Regions from separate parts of the Homo sapiens genome. Here region 2 is reported to be linked to region 1. The links are microRNA targets in miRTarBase. Many come from high-throughput screens and were not tested one by one. Region 1 holds a microRNA gene; the other region holds the end of a gene's coding sequence.

The links. Region 1 holds the annotated microRNA hsa-miR-517a-3p (AUCGUGCAUCCCUUUAGAGUGU, at 3,296-3,317, shown strand). A microRNA usually pairs through its seed, bases 2 to 8, with sites in the 3' UTR of a target mRNA and lowers its output. Matches are read on the target gene's strand: a 7mer-m8 pairs with bases 2 to 8, a 7mer-A1 pairs with bases 2 to 7 and ends in A, and an 8mer does both.
Region 2: miRTarBase lists TNIP1 as a target of hsa-miR-517a-3p. Seed matches in the 3' UTR shown: 8mer at 1,496-1,503.

The regions. Positions count from the first base shown.
Region 1 is chr19:53,717,823-53,722,343 of GRCh38, forward strand. It overlaps MIR517B (microRNA 517b), which reads left to right and starts at 3,254; the gene lies at 3,254-3,320. MIR520D (microRNA 520d) reads left to right here and starts at 2,274; the gene lies at 2,274-2,360. MIR520G (microRNA 520g) reads left to right here and starts at 4,344; the gene lies at 4,344-4,433. It also overlaps the pseudogene RNU6-803P.
Region 2 is chr5:151,027,481-151,031,480 of GRCh38, reverse strand. It overlaps TNIP1 (TNFAIP3 interacting protein 1), which reads left to right. Exons shown (of 18, transcript NM_006058.5): 18 at 734-1,536. The coding sequence ends at 768. It overlaps GPX3 (glutathione peroxidase 3), which reads right to left. Exons shown (of 5, transcript NM_002084.5): 4 at 3,950-4,000; 5 at 2,493-3,572. The coding sequence ends at 3,351. Among named protein-coding and RNA genes, the nearest start is that of GPX3, 8.9 kb to the right of the region's middle.

The DNA of each region.
Region 1 (4,521 bases):
TGAACTCTTGGCTGCACGACCAGGTCATATGTGCAACGAGACAGGGGTCTCACTATGCTGCCCAGGCTAAAATGGGCTTAGGTCCTTTTGCCTCCACCTCTCCCCAGTCCTTAGTAGCTGGGACTACATGTGAATATTAACCATGCACAGGCAAGAGGAAAGAAAGGACCGTTCTTTGGTTCACACCTAGCCGCCAGTCAAATTAGTATTTTAGATGAAGACTGCATTTGAGACATACTTGAACAACAAATGATTTGCTGTTTAGGTGTGGGCATCTTTCTTTTTTCCTAGTTTTAATAATGGCACCAGGCAGAGTACAGTGGCCCACGCCTGTAATTCCAGCACTTTGGGAGGCTGAGACAGGAGGATCACCTGAGGTCGGGAATTTGATTCCAGCCTGGCCAACATGGTGCAGCCCCATCTCTACTAAAAATACAAAATTAGCCCAGCATGGTGGTGGTATATGCTTGTAATCCCAGCTACTCTGGAGGCTGAGGCAGGAGAGTCGCTTGAAGCTGGAAGGCTGATCTTTCAATGAGCTGAGATCACGCCACTGCACTCAAGCCTCGGCAAAAAGAGTGAGACTCCATCTCAAAAACATAAAAAATAGGCCAGACACGGTGGTCCACTCCTGTAATCCCAGCACTTTGAGAGGCCAGGACAGGCGGATCTCCTCAGGTCAGGAGTCCAAGACTAGCTGGGCAAACAAGGCAAAACCTCGTCTATACTAAAATTAGGAAAAATGGCTGGGAACAGTGGTGGACACCTGTAATCTCAGCTACTTGGGAGGCCACGGCAAGAGAATCTCTTGAACCTGGGAAAAGGAGATTGCAGTGAGACGAAATCACACCATTGTACTCCATCCTGGGTGACAGAGTGAGATTCTGTTTCAAAAATTAAATAAATAGGCCGAGCACAGTGACTCATGCCTGTAATCCCAGAACTTTGGGAGGCCGAGGTGGCGGATCACCTGAGGTCGGGAGTTCAAGACCAGCCTAACCAACACGTAGAAACCCCATCTCTACTAAAAATACAAAATTAGCCGGGCATGGTGGCGCATGCCTGTAATCCCAGCTGCTCGGGAGGTTGAGGCAAGAGAATCACTTGAACCCCAGGGGGCGGAGGTTGTGGTGAGCCGAGATTGTGCCATTGTATTCCAGCCTGGGCAACGAGTGAAACTCTGTCTCTAAATAAATAAATAAAACTATTAAATAAACATTAAACGTTAAAAAATAAAAATAGATAAATATGAGATCATCATGAATTTGAGTGTCACCTTTGCGCAGGGCCCATGGTAATCTTTGTCATTCCAATTTTTTCATGCGTGCTGCCAAAGCTAGCACTTGTGTGTAGGAAGTATTCTTCCTGTGAGCATACAATATATGGAAGTTTCTTTTATTATTATTATTTTTTATGTTTTTGCGACTGAGTTTTGCTCTTGTCGCATAGGCTGAAGTGCAATGGTGTGATCTGGGCTCCCTGCGATGTCCACCTCTTGGGTTAAAGCGACTCTCCTACCTCAGCCTCCTGAGTAGCTGGGATTACAGGCATACACTTCCAGGGCTAGCTAATTTGTTGTATTTTAGTAGACGGGATTTCTCCATGTTGGTCAGGCTGGTCTCAAACTCCCGACTTCAGGTGATCTGCCCACCTTGGCTTTCCAAAGTACTGGGATTGCAGACAGCCACCGCGGCTGGCCTTCATATATTCTTATATATATAATATCATGTACACACAAAAGACTCTTTTACACCCTGAGAATACTCTTATATCACTTTGGGCATTTTTTTGTTGGTGTGTGCATTTTTTGTTTGTTCGTTCGTTTGTTTTTGAGACAAGATCTGGCCCTGTCACCTATGCTGGAGTGCAGTGGTGTGATCTCGGCTCCCGGCAACCTCAACCTCCCACCTCAGCCTCCTGAATTAGTGTCTACAGGCATGCACCTCTATACCTGGCTAACTTTTGTATTTTTACAGATGAGGTTTTACCATGTTTCCCAGGCTGGTGTCTAACTCCTGAGAATATAAGGTATATGTAGTAGGCGTTGCTTTTTCTCTTTGAAGACAAAACCCAGGACAGTTGTCCCTCGATGAACAAGGCTAACCTGCTGAACGTTTGAAGCAAGGAACTGGAGATGGTCTTTGTATCGGTTTATGTTCTAGATTCCAGAAAATATGCAAACAGGACCAATAAATGCATCTTTATTTTTGTGTCCATTTTGACCAGGTCAAGGAAAATTTCAACAAGAAACCCAGAGTGCCGGAGCAAGAAGATCTCAAGCTGTGAGTCTACAAAGGGAAGCCCTTTCTGTTGTCTAAAAGAAAAGAAAGTGCTTCTCTTTGGTGGGTTACGGTTTGAGAAAAGCAACGTTGAAGTTGATGCTGATTTCGGTAATACATTTGCAGAGCATGCTTATCACACTTGGACGATGGTGGGGTTCTGTTTTGGTTTTGCTTTTTTATTCTAAGGCTCTGTGTTGCTCATGCTGGAGTGCAGTGACATGTCCAATATATCTCTTGGCTTCAAATGGTCAGCCTGGGCAACACAGGGAAATTCTGTCTCAAAAAATAAACAAATGAATAAAAATACAAAATAAAGCCGGGCATGGTGGCTCATGCCTGTAATCCCAGCACTTTGGGAGGCCGATGCAGGTAGATCATCTCAGGTCAGGAGTTTGAGACCAGTCTGACCAACGTGGTGAAAATCCGTCTCTACTAAAAATACAATAACAACAAAAATTAGCCCAGTGTGGTGGTGGGCACCTGTAATCCCAGCTACTTAGGAGGCTGAGGCAGGAGAATTGCTTGAACCCGGGAGGCAGAGGCTGCAGTGAGCCGAGATTGTGCCACAGCATCCAGCCAGGATGACAGAGTGAGATTCCGTCTGAAAAAAAAAAAAAAAAAAAAAAGCTGGGCGCTGTGGCTCACGCCTGTAATCCCACCACTTTGAAAGGCCGAGGCGGGTGGATCACGAGGTCAGGAGATCGAGACCATCCTGGCTAACACGGTGAAACCCCATCTCTATTTAAAAATACAAAAAATTAGCGAGGCGTGGTGGTGGGTGCCTGTAGTCCCAGCTACCCGGGAGGCTAAGGCTTGAGAATGGCTTGAACCCAGGAGGCGGAGCTTGCAGTGAGCCGAGATCGTGCCATTGCACTCTAGCCTCGGCAACAGAGCAAGACTCCGTCAAAAAGAAACAAAAACAAAAACAAAAAAAAGAACCCTACAGTACTGGAGCAAGAAGACCTCATGCTGTGACCCTCTAGATGGAAGCACTGTCTGTTGTCTAAGAAAAGATCGTGCATCCCTTTAGAGTGTTACTGTTTGAGAAAAGCAACGTTGAAGATGCTGCTGATCTTGGTAATACATTTGCAGAGCGTGCTTATCATCAGACTTGCATGATGTTGGGGTTCTCTTTGGTTTGTTTTTTTCCAAGACAGGTTCCCTGTTGCCCAGGCGGGAGTGGGTGGCACCTCCAACCGAGATCTCTTGGGCTCAAGTGGTGATCTTTTTATTTTTGATTTTTTGAGATGCGCTCTCATTCCGTTTCCCAGGCTGGAGTGCAGCGGCAGGATCCCTGTTGACCGGAAACTCCGCCTCCCAGCTTCCGGCGATTCTCCCACCTCAGCCTGCCGAATAGTTGGGAATAGAGATGCCCGCCATCGTGTCCTGCTAGTTATTATTTTTATTGTTGTTGTTGTTGTTGAGATGGAGTTTCACTCTTGATGTCCAGGCTGGAGTGCAGTGTTGCAATTTAGGCTCACTGCAACCTCCACCTCCTGGGTTCAAGCGATTCTCCTGCCGCAGCCTCCTGGGTAGCTGGGATTACAGGTGCCTACTGCCCCACCCAGCTAATTTTTGTGTTTTGAATAGAGACTGGGTTTCACCATGTTGGGCAGGCTGGTCTCAAACTCCCGACCTCAGGTGATCCACCAGCCTTGGCCTCCTAAAGTGCTGGGATTACAGGCGTGAGCCACCGCCCCTAATCTCACGTGGTCCTCTAGAGTCAGCCTAGACTCTGGTCTATCCTGGAGGATGTTTGTGTGTGAGACAATGTATATTCTTCAACATCAGCCCAATTCTCTTAGCTAAATGTAAGGTATGAGTAGTAGGTATTCCTTTTTCTCTTTGGGGACAAAACTCAGGACGATCGCCCCTTGATGAACAAGGCTAACCTGCTGAGCCTTTGAAGCAAGGAATTGGAGATGGTCCTTTCAGGGGTTTATGTTCTGGATTCCATAAAACATGTAAACAGGGCCAATAAATGCATTTTTATTTTTGTATCCGTTTTAACCTGGTCAAGGAAAATTCCAACAAGAAACCCAGAGTGCTGGAGCAAGAAGATCCCATGCTGTGACCCTCTAGAGGAAGCACTTTCTGTTTGTTGTCTGAGAAAAAACAAAGTGCTTCCCTTTAGAGTGTTACCGTTTGGGAAAAGCAGTGTTGAAGTTGATGCTGATGTTGGTAATATATTTGCATGCTTATTATCAGACTTGGATGATGTTGGGGTTCTGTTTTGTTT
Region 2 (4,000 bases), not on the chromosome of region 1:
TGAAAAGATTGGGACCTTAGCGACTGCCATTGCTCCCTGTAGAGCTCTCATGGGGCACAAGGCACCACCTCGCCTGTGGGACTTCTGGGAACAGAATTATAACTAGTGGGTGGGAATGACAGGGAGGCCAAGTCCATCGCAACATGAAGAGGAACTTTCTTTCTAAGGGACACAGTTGTGCAGAAATGGAGCCAGCTCTGGGAGGTGGCGAGTGTCCCTTTGCAGGTGTGTGAGTAGAGGCCATGGGACGGACACCTTGGAGGGGTTGCAGTTTGGAGGATTTGGTGATTGGAAGAAGGGATTGGGCTGCTCAGTCATTTTCTGTTTTTCCCTGAAGAACCCTACAAGTTCAGTGGAGCCCCTTGGAGGCTGCTTTGATGAGTGGTAGAGATTGGTATAATGGGAGGGGCTCCCTCCCCAGAACTGCTCCAGGATTTGAGATTGGGTTCAAATCCTAGCCCCACTATTTCCTGGACCTGGAACTATGAGCAAGTCATTTAAAACCTCTTAGTGTCCCAGTTCCCTCTTTTACAATGGGATAATAACCTGCCTTCTTCATAGGGCTGGGTGAAGATTACATGACCAGCGTACTTAAGGTACTTAGCCCTGGCACTTGGTAGCACCCAGTAACCCTAGCTGTTATTTTCACTGTTCCTGCACTGCATTCCATAAGAGACTTTGAAACTCGCTCTACCACATAATCATGAAGTCCTCAAAATTTTTGTTTATTTAGAGTCTCCAAAAAATGACCGTGAGGGGCCTCAGTGAGACCAGATTGTGTCATTTGGCTCCACCTTCATCTTGCAGAGCCAGCTGATCTCAGATTGCCAAGAAACTAGAAGCCACTTGCACGGTGTGGCCAGAGCCTCAGCTGGATGAGAGGCTGAGATGGGTGGCCAGCTTGTACACCAGTCCCTGAACTGAGCTGTTTACAGGACTGGGGAGGCTCCACCCAGAAGGCTTTCATTTGTACTCTGCTGGGAGTGACTGGGAAAAACTCCTTCCCTGCTGCTGAGTGGAGAGAGGCCTCATCCGGCTTTGACCCACCATCCGTTGCAGAAGCCTCCAGGAGCAGCAATCCTAAGAGTGGGAGGCAGCCAAGACCCCCTTCCTTCAAAACCTCCCGGAAGTGGTTTCAGGCCCTCTAGTTGCCATGACCAATTTGTGTGTGTGTTTAATTTTTGCTTCAAGCTCTGTAGCAGGACCTGCCCCACGCACACCCCTACCCCTCTGTGAGGAGCTGTGGGAAGTGTGGGTTTGTCTCCAGAACAGAAGAGAATGATGGATATTCTGGCTCTGGGGCCCTCTCCACCACCACTCACAGTAGCCTTGCTGAAGCCATCACAGATGGGAGAAGGCCATGCCAGCCACGTCCGCCGAGGGGCGCCAGCCTGAAGCTGCCAGGCCCTGAGGTTCAGACCCTGGACCCCATAGCTGGAGGCCTGTGGTGCCAGAAGCCCAGATTAGGGTGGCTGTCCATCCCTGGATAGCTATTTGCACGAATCATGGACATAAATCCAAGTTGAAGAAGATCAACATTCTGACTCATGTTCATTTATGCGCTAATGTTCCCCTGTCAACCCCCTGCTTTCCTGGGTCCCTCCTTCTGTTCCCCTTTTCTTCCTTTCCCTGAGATGGTCACCATTACTCTTGAGTAATGGTGACGTATCAGGGCCTCCCTGAGGGTAGGGCAACCGGGGCAGTGGAAGGAGCCTAGGCCAGGACTCAGGGGACTTGGGTTTAAATTCCAGTCCTGCCCCTCACTCATCAGGAGACCTGGGGCAAGGCGTGGCCCTTCTGTGAGCCTCAGTTTCCTCATCCGTCAAACAGAACACCTCATCTTAACCTCAGCTGACTTGGAGAACTGTGGGAGGGAATGAGAGTAGATCAGAACTGGTTTTATAAACTCCAAATGCTGAGTGAGAGAAGCAGAGTGGGCCAAGGTAGGAGCCAAAAAGCAGGGACTCAAAGCATTGTCTAATTTCTCTCTTTTTTTTTTTTTTTTTTTAAGAGACAGTCTGACTGTGTTGCCCAGGCTGGAGTGCAGTGGCTCTTCACAGACTCAGTCACGGCACACTATAGCCTCAAACTCCCGGGCTCAAGGGAGCCTCCCACATCAGTCTCCCAAGTAGCTGAAGGAGTGCGCCACTGCAGCTAACTATCAGGTTGTTGAAAAAGTAATTGCAATTTTTGCCCCTTTTTTGTGGCAGGGGGGCCTCCCTCATGAAGATGCCACCCCTAATAGGGCTACATGGCCCTTGCAGTCTGCCTTGGCTGATCTCAGGGAGAATTGTGGGGTGGGGAGGTAGCCTTGGATTTTGCCATATGGCGAAAACCGCAATTACCTTTGCACCCACTGTAAAAAGTTTTTGTTGTCATATTTGTTCTTTTCTCATCCTCCCCCCTTTACCCTGCCCCACCTTCTCCTCCTCACTTCCCACCCAGGCGGGGGCGGCCACCATTGAAGAAGCACCACACACAGTAGGCTCAGCTGCTGCAGAAAGGCTTTTACTGGGCAGACGGGGTGAGTCTCAAGCCAGTGGACCAGTGAGGGGTGAGGGCACGTCCTCCGAAGGAGCAGGGGTGGCATCCCTGCCCAGGGGCCTTAGCCTGAATGCACTAAGGGCTGGCCCCTCAGACAGGCTCAGGGGAGGTCCGCCCACAAGGGCTTTGGGCCCCTCCCTCATGAAGACGCCACCCCTGCCATGGGGTCCGTGGCCCTTGCTGTCACATCTGCCTTGGTTGATCTCAGGGAGGTTGATCTCTCTCAGGGAGAACTGTGGGGTGGGGATGTAGCCTTGGGAGGGCCCTTCAGGAAGTAGGAGTGGGGGGTTGGGGAGTGTGGTAGACCCAGAAACTTCTGGGGACGTCAGTCATAGTTACTAATATTTGGAGGCAGTGGGAGATGCTGGCCCCAAGGTTGAGGTATCAGTTAGAGCAGAACAATTGGACCTAGAGCTGGTTTTTCCTTTGGGTTTAGGTGTAAGTGAACTATTATCATTGGAGTGGAGAACTGGAGAGAAAGGGTTGTCACTGTCCAGCACTACACAGCTGCAGGCACACAGATGGTACACATTCCCAGAAAGACACATAGGTAGACACGTGGCTGTACACCCATGCACACACACACAATCACGCATACCTGTAGGCATGTGTGTAAACACCCACATGCACCCACACCCACATGCCTGGCAGTACACAGAACTGTATGCATCCATTTGTGCCAGGCTGGGGCCTTGAGTGATAGGAAAGGGGTCTGTGATGGGTAGATAGTGTGGTTGGAGACACGGATTTCTTCCTGAACAAAGTCCCTCCCCTACATGGTGGACATGGGATGAGACGGCCTTCAGTTACTTCCTCTTGACCCCCAGGGCTGCCTGCCGCCTCATGTAGGACAGGATGTCCATCTTGACGTTGCTGACCGTGGTCCGGTGGTGCCAGCGCATGATGGGTATACCATCTGGCCCCACCAGGAACTTCTCAAAGTTCCAGCGGATGTCGTGAACCTTCATGGGTTCCCAGAAGAGGCGGTCAGATGTACCCAGGAGCTCCGAGGTGGGAGGACAGGAGTTCTAGAGCAGGGATAAGAGGAGTGTCAACCTTGCTTGAGGCCCCCTGACCCTCTTCCTTCCCAGGCCTTCCTGGGGAATAGCCTGGCCCTGAGAAAAGAGCCCCAGTTTGGGAGTTAGAAGACTGCCAGCGCCAGCTGTGGCTCTAGAAGATTGTGAGACCCTTAGTATGTTCACTCTGGGTCCTTCTGGGCCTTTCTGTAAAATGGGCCAATGAGACCCTAGTCAGGGTCTGCAGAGCCCTCTAGTTGGAACAATAGTCAGGTGCCAAGAAATTCCCCAAGAGCCCAGGAGCAGGGGAGGTGGCATGGGCCCTGACGCTGTGGGCTGGAGCCAGGAGGGGCTGCAGCCCCAGCCAGCACAGGTGGCAGCTCACTTACCTTTAGGAAAGTGTAGAATTTCTGCTCTTTCTCTCCATTGACATCCCCTTT